Regions from separate parts of the Homo sapiens genome. Here region 2 is linked to region 1. The links come from fine-mapping of genetic effects on gene expression. A gene starts in region 1. The other region holds a variant in brackets. All regions are shown on one strand. Distances are from middle to middle. Region 1 holds the start of SAP30L-AS1 (SAP30L and GALNT10 antisense RNA 1). Region 2 overlaps GALNT10 (polypeptide N-acetylgalactosaminyltransferase 10).

Region 1 (5,372 bases):
GACAGGGGCTGGGCGCAGTGGCTCACGCCTGTAATCCCAGAACTTTGGGAGGCCTAGGCGGGTGGATCATTTGAGGTCAGGAGTTCAAGACCAGCCTGTCCAACATGGCGAAACCCTATCTCCATTAAAAATACAAAAATCAGCCAGGCATGGCGGCAAACGCCTGTAATCCCAGCTATTCAGGAGGCTGAGGCAGGAGAATCGCTTCAACCCGGGAGGCGGAGGTTGCAGTGAGTCGAGATCTTGCCACTGCACTCCAGCCTGGGTGACAGAGTGAGACTCCGTCTCAAAAAAAAAAAAAAAAAAAAAAAAGAAAAAGAAAAAAAAAAGAAAAGAAAAAGGACAGGGGAGATTTTTTATTTATTAGAGACTTAATGAAGACTTATGTATAGGGCTTGGAAGTAAATTAGATAATATCTTTAAGAAATTAACCAGCCTCTTAGGTGCTGTGTGTACCTGACACCCTCACTTCCTATCTCTGGGCCTGTTTCAACCCTAAAATCAGAGGGGAAACGTGCACTCCCTTTCAGTTTAACAAGCAGTCTCTGATTTCCTCCAACTGTGGAGAAATTCTGATTCTAGAAGAGAATGGATGTTAACCACCTAAGCTCTTAGCTAGTCTACCTGAATATTAAATATCCCCTTAACTCATTTCCAATTCCTAATCATGAAGCAATCACTTAAGGCTTGTAGCAACAGATGTCAAACTAAAAAGTTCTTAATTGGTTGACAATAGGCACAGCTTCAGAATTGTTAACTAGAAGTGGTGAAGTCACACGGGAGGAGTTTCCTATAATAAGCCACAAAGAGCAGGGCAATCCGATTTAAATTTAAATATCCACCCCCTTATTTCAAAAGAAACTACCACTAAGAAAATTGATTTCTTTTCTTCCCCCCTCCAGTCACATCGACTGCAAGAGCCATTTCTCAAGACCTGGCCTTGGCCTTATTTCTGCCACATCCTAGAAAAACCCATTCCCACAGCTGCCTGCGAAGCAGCTAGCTCGGTGACCCTCTGCTGATACCGAGGATGCGGGAGCCAGGGAAGTAACTGCCACCTTTCTCTGTCTGAAGGAATAACAGGGTTCCTAGAAGGAGAGAGAAGTTGGAAAAGAGCCGGGTATCTTCATCACTCCCCGCTCCGATTCTTGCTCCTTCAAGGGCCAACAAAACTAACCCACCTCTCCCTGCTCTAAAGTCTAAACCAATAAAACAAGTTGGAAACTGCTGTCCAATCTTTCCAGGCAGCAGGAGTCCTGAAGCCCCCGCCCCCATCCTCCCGGATCTGGGTAGAATCACAGTCAGAGCATGTCAGCGCTGGAGCGGCCTTTGAAATGCGGAGTCCAACTCAGTTCTGCAGAGCCGGGGCGGCGAGGCCCACGGCGGGGAGTGCCCGGGGAGTCCCGACTGGAGCCCAGGGCAGCGGACGGAGAGCTGGGGGCGCCGGGGCCCAGACGCGAGCGGGGGCGGACTCACGCTCTTGTCGATGTCCAGCTTGAGTTTCTTCTGCGAGATGCTCTTCTGGACCCTCTTGCTGAAGGAGGCGTTGCCCGCGGGCCGGACGCAGCGCTCGCCGTCCTCGATGAGGCAGCAGCTCTGGCCGTAGCCCGGGGCGGCGGCAGCTGGGGCGGCGGGGGGCCCTTCGCGGCTGTCCTCCTCCGTGCTGAAGCCGTTCATCTCCCCGCCCCGGGCCGGTCCCTCTGGGGGAGGGTCCCCGGTAGGCCACTCCGCGGCCGCGCTTGCCGCGGGGCAGGTCGCTGAGACCCCCGCAGCCGAGGGTCCCAGAGTCCGTCTCCAGCCCGGGCGCTGCCCTGCCCCGCGTCCGAGAGGCCCGGCTCCCTCGGCCCCCGGCCCTCCGCCTCCGGAAGCCCCCTTCCTCCCGGCTCGAGGCCCCGGGGTCGGCTCCCGCGGCTCGCAGGGCCCCGCCGGGGGTCACCCGGAGGAGCCTTCTGCCGGGGGCCCAGAACCGTAACCCTGCAGCGGGGGTGTCCGGGAGGGCGTCCCAGGAAACAGCCGCTCCCCAAGGACTCCGGGCCTGGGTTGCCAGGGGGTTTCGAAGGCCCCTGCCGGCTCCCGCCTTCTTTCGGCAGCGGGGCAAACTCGCTGCCGGGCAGCTCCCCCGGGGTGGCGCGGCCTCCTCGCGCGGGGCCCGGCCTCGAACCCGCGGCACCCGGGCCCCGCGGCTCGTCCGGCCCACTCCACCCCTGCAGCCACTCGGCTGCGCCCCGAGTCCCGCGGCAGCCCCTGGGCCGCCCGGCCGCCGCCCGCCGAACGCTCCGCACCACAACAGTTCGCTCCCCCCGCCCTTCGCGGGACAGCGGAAGTCCCGCCTTCACGCGACCATTGGTCTCATTTGCTCTCTGGGCGGGGCTGCCGCCGCCGCTGGCGCGTCCCATTGGGCGTCGCCGCCGCCAGTCTCCGGCGCCAGGCTACTTCCTGGACTCTGCTGGGATGGGTTCAAAGTAGAGAAAGTGGAAGAGGAAAGAGTTACCCCAGCGAGAACCGGGAACCGGGCTGCAGACTCTCCGGCCCGGGGGAGGGATGGTGAGCAGGGGCCTGGCTGGACCGAGGGCCAGACTCCAGGAACAGAGGAACACATTCGGGGACAGACAGTAGAGACGCGGACGGGGACGCTGAGGGACAGACTTGGAGGAGGGGCATATGAGGGGACCTAAAGAGGATAGAGGTGCTATCAGGAGAGGGGCGGACTAATAAAATGAAAGGGCCAGGGCCAGAGGACTCGCGGATCCGTGGGAGGAAGGGTGGGTGAAATAGGACGGAAAGCCAGTCATGGCGGGAAAGACAGAGGGACAACCCCATACAGATACGTGGAAAGACATGCGGAGGAGGTGATGGGGGGATCTTGCAAGGCAGTCGCAATATTGGGGGTAGCCGATACCTTCCAGAGTGTGGAGAGTGGGACTGGCTTGGACGGCGCGGAAAGAAAAGGAGAGGGGGAAAGGAGACCCCGAGGGGTTTGGGCGACCCCTCCACTGGGAAGAATGGGAAGTCCGAATGAGGTCTGGAGGGTGGACTAGGTGAGCCGCGGGCAAGAGAAAGGGCTTCAGGGGAGATGAAGTGAAGGCTGGGAGTGGGGCCCAGGGGCCAATCTCGGAATCTAGATGGGGAAGGGCTGCGGTGTCTTGGGCTCTCCCTGGAGCTCCAAGCTGTAGTTCTATTGCTTTGAGTCCCCGGGTCTACCGGCGAAGCGACTGCGCCCTGCCAAGACCCTGCGCTTGGTTTCGGCGCCCAGGGCACCACCTCCCCTCCAGGAGGGGCCGTAGGATATGCTCTGGTCCAGCACTTCAGTCATGCCACTCTCCAACTGCGCAGCATGGGGACTGATGAGGTCCGAAAGGCGATGGGACCAGCCCAGGGTCGTGTAATTATGTAGGGCTGGGCAGCGTTTTATGGGCAGGGAAGAGGGGAGGCTGTGTTAGGTGATAGGTAAGCAAGTGTTAGTACTAGAGGGCATAGAAGGAGCTTCGGGTTTGTGTCCTGTTGTAAAAGGGAAAGCTACCAGTTTCCATGTTTAGAAGCAGGTGGCTGGTGATCTTAAGTTTTGCTCAGTGGCCATAAATGCATTTGTAGCATCTGAACTGGTAATTTCACACGTGGGACAGCCATCGTCGGAAATAGGCCTATCAGAGATAATATGAAGTACAGTGATGTTCATTATGGAATTATTTATAATAGGAAAAATAAAATAGAACCTCAGAGTTCCAAAAGGGAAGTGGTTAAGTAAACTACCTAAAATCTTCAGAAAGAGATTGTGCAGTTAGCATTTGAGGTAGTTTCAACATCAATGTAAACATTTTCTATAGAGAATAATTCACCATTAATTCTTAAATAAAGAGCTGATGAGGAGTTGGAGAAATGCTTTTTTTATGATAAGTAAAAAAATTCAGGATATGAAATTGCATGGAGGATACGATGTCTGTACATCTATGTTTAAAGAAAAAAGAAAACTATTGGTATAAAAAATGCACCAAAGTACTAACAGTGATTATTTCTGGGTAGCAGGAATATGGCTGATATTTTTCTCCTTTTGTTTAACCTTTGCATTTTCTTTAATAAGCATTATTTTTGTTTTTACAGTAGAAAAAATAGAATAAAAATTAATGGAAAAAAGGCACAGATTAATAGGAGTCTTCCCTCAGAGTTCATATATTCTGTTCAAAAGTAAATTGTTGTTGAACTCATTATGTATACCAAGTATAGGGTTGGCTATAGGAGGAGGATGAAACATAACCCTTGCCCTAAAAGAATATCTCCTATCTGGGGTGTTCAGACATATATGTAGAAAACACTTGGGTATCTGTACCAGGCACTGTGTGATGTTGGGTCCAAAGTCAGTTGGTATGGATGAAACCTCCATGTTCCCCATATTTTTCTAAACAGCATTTGTATTCAATGCTAGGCTATTGCGGTACACAACTTCTTCTGCACCAACTTGCCCTGGTCTAAGGGGATCTAGGACCTTTTCTTAGGTGCTCTGTCTCAGTCCTTGAGGTAGTGGCTACTTATATCTGCTATTCTTGTATTATTTAGCATTCTTTTTTCTTTTTACTAGGCAGTTCCTTATAACTGTAGGGGACTACAGTCCCCTATTATAATTAATACATGTTTATATTATTATTTTCCTGTTCAAATTACTGTAAGGTTACTCTTTCCTGATTACACCCAGCCTGATACGCCCAGCCAGCCTCTGTGTGTGTGTGTGTGTGTGGTGGTGGTGGTGGGGGAGTTCATGCTTGTAACTGTTCTTTTTTTTTCTTTTTTCTTTTTTCTTTTGAGACAGAGTTTCACTCTGGTTGCCCAGGCTGGAGTGCAATGGCGCGATCTCGGCTCACCGCAACCTCTGCCTCCCGGATTCAAGCGATTCTCCTGCTTCAGCCTCCCGAGTAGCTGGGATTACAGGCATGTACCACTGCTCCCGGCTAATCTTGTATTTTTAGTAGAGATGGGGTTTCTCCATGTTGGTCCGGCTGGTCTCGGACTCCCAACCTCAGGTGATCTGCCCGCCTCGGCCTCCCAAAGTGCTGGGATTACGGGTGTGAGCCACCGCTCCCAGCCATTCTTTATGTATAATTTTGTAGTCTTTATTCAAGGCATACTTTATCATAATCTTTCCCCATATTGCTATGTAGTTTTCACAGTTGCCATTTTTTATGTAGTACAGTGCAGTTTCTGTAGTACAGTACACTGTGGTGCTAAAGACAGTTGGCTTTGCTGTCAGAACTGGGTTCAGATCTGGACTCCACCCATGACTTGTTATAACATGTTAGCAATTATTTCACTTCTTGAGTCTGATGAAATAGGTGGTGACAAATTCTTAACACAGTGCCTAGAACATCATAAGTGGTTAATAA
Region 2 (5,372 bases), 55 kb after region 1:
TGGTGGTGTAGACCTGTAGTCCCAGCTATTTGGGAGGCTGAAGTGGGACAACTGCTCGAGCCCTGGGGTGTTGAAGCTGCAGTGAGCTCTGATCACGTCACTGCCCTCCAGCCTGGGCAACGGTGTGAGATCCTGTCTGAAAAAAAATGGGTTTTTTTTTTTTTTTTTTTTTGTGGAGACCTCCAATTTATTTTACGTAATATTTTCTTGTTTAGATATGCTCTAACTTATTTATCCCCAAAGGACGTGCATTTGGGTCATTTTCAATCTTCTGCTATGGTAAGTAACACTTCAGCAAATAAATCTTTGCTCATCACTGTCTCTCTTATATAAACTCCTGGGCATGGAATTTCAGGTCAAAGAATGTGCTTGCTCTGAAATGTAATGGATTTTGCCAAATTGCTATTCACAGAAGATATACCCACTTACACTGCCCCAAAGCCTACATTTTTCTCACTTTAGTTTGGTCACATTGTCCTGGTTGGATACTTTCTGTCTCCCGTATCTCATAGTTGGAGATATCCTAACCATGGCCTCCTGGGGACACTGTGCAGTTTCCTTTCTGCTCATCCTGCTGCCTCCCCCCCTAATCCAAACAACCCCTCATATCTGTGTATGTCAGAGGGCTGTCCACACAGCATCTCATTTGATCCTATCTTGTGGGGTAGGAAGGAAAACCGTATCAGCACAGTCTGGGGTATGAGGACCAGAGGTGAAACAACTGGCCCAGGGTCCTAGGATGGAAGGAGAGCCTCCTTGCTGAGCACTTTCCCACCATACACCATTGTCCAAAGATGGCCTCCTAAGTCTGGGAAGGGTAGTACCAAGGAGGTATATCAGTTGGAAGTGATGCCACTAACACACTAACACTTACTGAAAACACTGATGTGGGCCAGAGACTGGGGATATAGAGGTGGACAAAACCTCCTCCCTGCCTCCAGGGAGCATGCAGAGATGGGAGTGCAATGTGGGGTAGTTCCTAGGCAGCATGGGGAGCCATCTATATAAGCTGAGATTGGAAGGGTGAATGAGGGTTGGCCAGACTAAGGAATGGCATTTCAGGAGTGTACAGTGTGGGCCTGCAGAGAGGGGCTGGCCCGTAAGCCTGGTTCTTACATGCAGTCTTGTCTGGCTGGGTAAGGTAGACATCTACGGTTTGCTCTGCCCCACATCCATTCTCCCTTCTGGGCACAGCACCTGGACTTTCCTTTGGGTAACTAGCCCATCCCCACCTTCCTGCAGTCACAGGGCATGTGACTGCAGGTGACCAATTGCAGTATTGTTCAGGGATGGGCATGGGGCCAGCAGGCCAATGAGACTCAACCTGGGGACTTGTACAAGATGATGGGAAAAACACTCTCCTTCCATGGGCTGCTGAGGATCTCCATGAGAAAAAGCCCACCTGAGAGGGAAGCCAACTCAGATGAAATAGGGACTAGGCATTGAGAGAGACCTAGCCCGAGTGAGATGACTGAGTCCCTGCATCCAGCCCGGCCTTAGGGTCTACCCTGGAATTTCAGTTATGTGAGCCTATCAATTCTGGTTTTTGCTTAAATCAGATTGACTAAGGTTTTGGTTATCTGTAAGCAAGAATCCAGACTAATGCAATGGGATAAGAGGAAAAGGGGAAAGGAGAGAGCAGTAGGGCCAGCTCATGAACCTAGCTGGAGCTAGGCTATGGAGTTAAAGACTTGTCCAACCACTAGAACTAGGAAGATTCTGACTTCCACGTGAGAACTTTGCTCTGCTGAGAGAGACAGACAGAGAAGGAGGGAGGGAAAGGGAAAGTCAATGACTTTTCTAGAAATTTCAGAGCTGTTGGGACACTTTTTGGGGATTTTCTCATCAGGATAGAGAATCCGGTCTGGAATCAGCCCTCAGCCCTGAAGGTACGTGTTGATTGATCTTAATTTCTGAAAATACACTCATGCCTTTCAGACCAGGCTTCTCTCTGTCACCAAGAAAAGGGATCTTAGCAGAGATGAATCAGAGGGAATTCGGTCCTTCGTAAATGCCAGCTCTGGCTGAAAGAGAACACCTGCATTCCAGCAGGGCGCTGCCAGGGATGAATGGGCTCACCTGTTCCCCTCAGCCCTGCAGGCAGTCTTTCCACAGGGTCCTGGGAGACAGTGCACTGGCAGATGGGCTGTTGCTGGCTCCAGAAACTCTCCTTTTCCAAGCCAGGAGAGAGAAAGCCCAGGGAGAAAAGTCTCCCTTCCGGACCTCAGGAGCCTCCTCATTACACTGTCTCATTTCCTCTGGAGAGTGACGGACATAATTGGATCAAATGGAAATGTAAGCCAGCCTCCTTCCCCCTCCCGGATGAGATACTTCCAATATGGCTTCATTACCAAGTCTATTGTAAATAACTGTGGAGAAAAATGCCATTTGTTCTGCCATAATTGCCTGATGAGCATCAGTAGATGGGTCTTTGAAACACATAGAATGAAATCATTTTGGGCTGGTTTAGAAATTCCTTTGTGCAAATCTTTCTCCATTCACTGTTCTCCATGGTGGG[G/C]GTTCTGAAGAGGGTCTTCTAGAGCAAGGAGCCAGTTAGGAGCTTGGAGGCTGATTCTGGCCAGGGACACACTTACTTGGAGTATTCAGCCAATATTTGTTAACTGCTGTCAACTAAAGAAAAAAAACGAAGCTTTTAAAGAATTAAAGTTAGTTTTATTTAGAAGTCTTCTTGAGGATTATAGACCAAGGCCTGTAGCCTGGGAGGAGGCTTTTAGAAAGGTTCTCTCAGACTCCTCCAACGTAGTATTTTAGTTTATACATAGGTGGTGAAGATTTAGTATGTGAAAAATTACATCAAGGTTTGGGTGTTAGAGTACATCTGGTTATAGATTACAGAAACATAGTCACTATTCTTGTCGGGTGTTATTTTATGAGTAGAGAAAGGCGAGGACTAGGGTCATTTATCTTTGATGGAATTAGTGACTCAGGCGAGAGACATGGGGGGCCATGCGTTCTATCCTGTTTTGCCTTTAAAACATTTTTCCAGAGAGCTGCACAGTGTCCCGGAGTCAGGGGCTTTGTGAAATTCTCCCAGCAAAGGGAAATGGGCAAACACGGCCTCTTACATTTGCCACTTTGTTTCACGAAGTTTTTGGTCATAAATTGTTTGGTTGTGTTGGTAAGAATTAATGTTGATTGCCATCTGTAGTTAGAAGGGCTCTTGTTTAGGAAGGTTGGTAATTTTTAGTTGTAGTTGTATCAGACCTAGTGTGTTTTTTAGCCTTTTCTTGGAAAATATGTTTTGGACTGAGTTTAGTTCTCATTAGTAGGATGCAGGGGGTTTTTGATGGTGTCTTTTTTTTGTATTTAATACAATATTTTAATAGGATTATTATGAGGATATTATAGATTCTATACAGTAATACAGACTTCATAGTAATAAAGTCTGTTGTAGACTGGAAAAAATATGATATTTAATAAAATTGGAATATATATTTGTATACTTTTAATTGTATTATTTTTTATACTTATATTTATTGGAGTCTTTTTTATGAAAAGCAATGTTGGACTAGAATTTATTGTAAATGCCTTTATAGAAGAATTTAGAATAATAATTCTAAATAAGTGAGAAAAATAGAATAATCCCAGTTAAAATTTGATAAAGGTTTTTGATTTTTTTTTTTTTTTGACATGGAGTCTCGCTTTGTCGCCCAGATTAGAGTGCAGTGGCACGATCTCGGCTCACTGCAACCTCTGCCTCCCAGCTTCAAGCAATTCTCCTGTCTCCACCTCCTGAGTAGCTGGAATTACAGGCATGTACCACCACGCCTGGCTAATTTTTGTATTTTTAGTAAAGATGGGGTTTCACAATGTTGGCCAGGCTGGTCTTGAATTTAGTTATTTTATTATATGTAGTATTTTAACATGATAACCAGAATTATGGCTGACAGTGTTATATCAGAACTACTAGACTTTTATACATTTTACATATTTTTAGAATATTTATAAGATATTTATATAAATATAATTTTAGAAAAGATTTAATACAATAATAAAAATTATGACTCATAAAAATTGGTCTCATAGTGTCTTTTCTGTGTTGGACCAGGCTTTAGGTACTTGGGATATGGCGGTGAGTGAAACACAAAAAGATCCCTCCCCCACTGACTACTCTTTGCTGATAAGCTTGGAAGCAGCCTCAGAATGCATATCAACACCCACCTGGGGCAGCCCCTACCAATGGATCAGAGTTGGCCTGGCAGGGAGTAGAAACCTATTTGCTGTGTCTCTCTCTCTGTCTCTCTCTCTCCCTTTCCCCCTCCCTCTCTCCCTCCCCACTCCTTCTCTCTCTCTCTTTCTTTCCTTCTTTTTTTTTTTTTTTTTAATGAGATGGGGTCGTGTTGTGTTGTCCAGGCTGGTCTCAAACTCCTAGGCTCAAGAGATCCTCCCATCTCGGCCACCATTCCTGGCCCTATTTGCCACTTCCGACTTAGATTGTTATTAATTCCATTAACTAAGAAATTGCAGAATATCCAAGTAAACTAGGAATAATACCAGAAGAGGCAAAAAAAAAAAAAAAATCCCAGAAAGGGTGAGGCAGAGGTCCATAAAACATGGCAGGTTTTCAGAACAGTCTGGGTATGATTTAAACAACAACAAAAATAGCAGGTCAGAGCGTGGGCTTTGGAGTCAAGCAGACCTGCGTTTGGGCCCCAGTTCTGCTTCTTCCGGCTGTGCGAGGCCTTGGTCTGAGCTTTGCTTGCCTTCCTGGTGAAACGGGTATAATAATGATACAACTCTCCTAAGGTTGTTGTGAGGATTAAACAAGTCAGCATGTATGAAGGGCTTGGCACACTGTCCTGTTAGCTATGATCAGGACCGAACTTCACTTGTTACACGCTGGAGTGGATGCACCATTGTTTATAGCTGGTATCTGTTCTGACTGGATGTGCTTGTGTTATCACAGTTGTTACATATTTTGAACATTACCCTTATGTGAATATTAATTTTATTTAGGGGGCTGGTCTCCTTATGGGAGACAACTTCAGAACTCTGGTGGTTAAAATAGATATAAACTGGCCAGGCACAGTGGCTCACACCTGTAATCCCAGCACTTTGAAAGGCCGAGGTGGGTGGATCACCTGAGGTCAGGGGGTCAAGACCAGCCTGGTCAACATGTCGAAACCCTATCTCTACATTAGCTGGGCGTGGTGGTGGGCGCCTGTAGTCCCAGCTACTCAGGAGGCTGAGGCAGGAGAATCACTTGAACCCAGGAGGTGGAGGCTGCAGTGAGCCAAGATCGCACTACTGCACTCCAGCCTGGGCAGCAGAGTGAAACTCCATCTCAAAAAAAAAAAAACAAAAGAAAAGAAAAGAAAAAAAAAGGATATAAACTGCTTTTCAAACCTAAA

What was found. PIP is the estimated chance that this variant, and not a neighbour inherited with it, causes the effect.
Region 2: its variant is fine-mapped to the expression of SAP30L-AS1 in fibroblasts (GTEx, PIP above 0.99).

What each region holds. Positions count from the first base shown.
Region 1 is chr5:154,442,910-154,448,281 of GRCh38, reverse strand. SAP30L-AS1 (SAP30L and GALNT10 antisense RNA 1) reads left to right here and starts at 2,460. Exons shown (of 3, transcript NR_037897.1): 1 at 2,460-2,544; 2 at 4,802-4,920. SAP30L (SAP30 like) reads right to left here and starts at 2,285. Exons shown (of 4, transcript NM_024632.6): 1 at 1,477-2,285. The coding sequence starts at 1,677. RefSeq lists silencers at 1,642-1,751, 1,882-2,411 and enhancers at 1,988-2,488, 2,542-2,661.
Region 2 is chr5:154,387,858-154,393,229 of GRCh38, reverse strand. The region is part of intron 7 of GALNT10 (polypeptide N-acetylgalactosaminyltransferase 10); the gene reads right to left. SAP30L-AS1 (SAP30L and GALNT10 antisense RNA 1) reads left to right here. Exons shown (of 3, transcript NR_037897.1): 3 at 216-3,461. Among named protein-coding and RNA genes, the nearest start is that of MIR1294, 43 kb to the right of the region's middle. The variant G/C (reference allele first, on the strand shown) is at 2,519.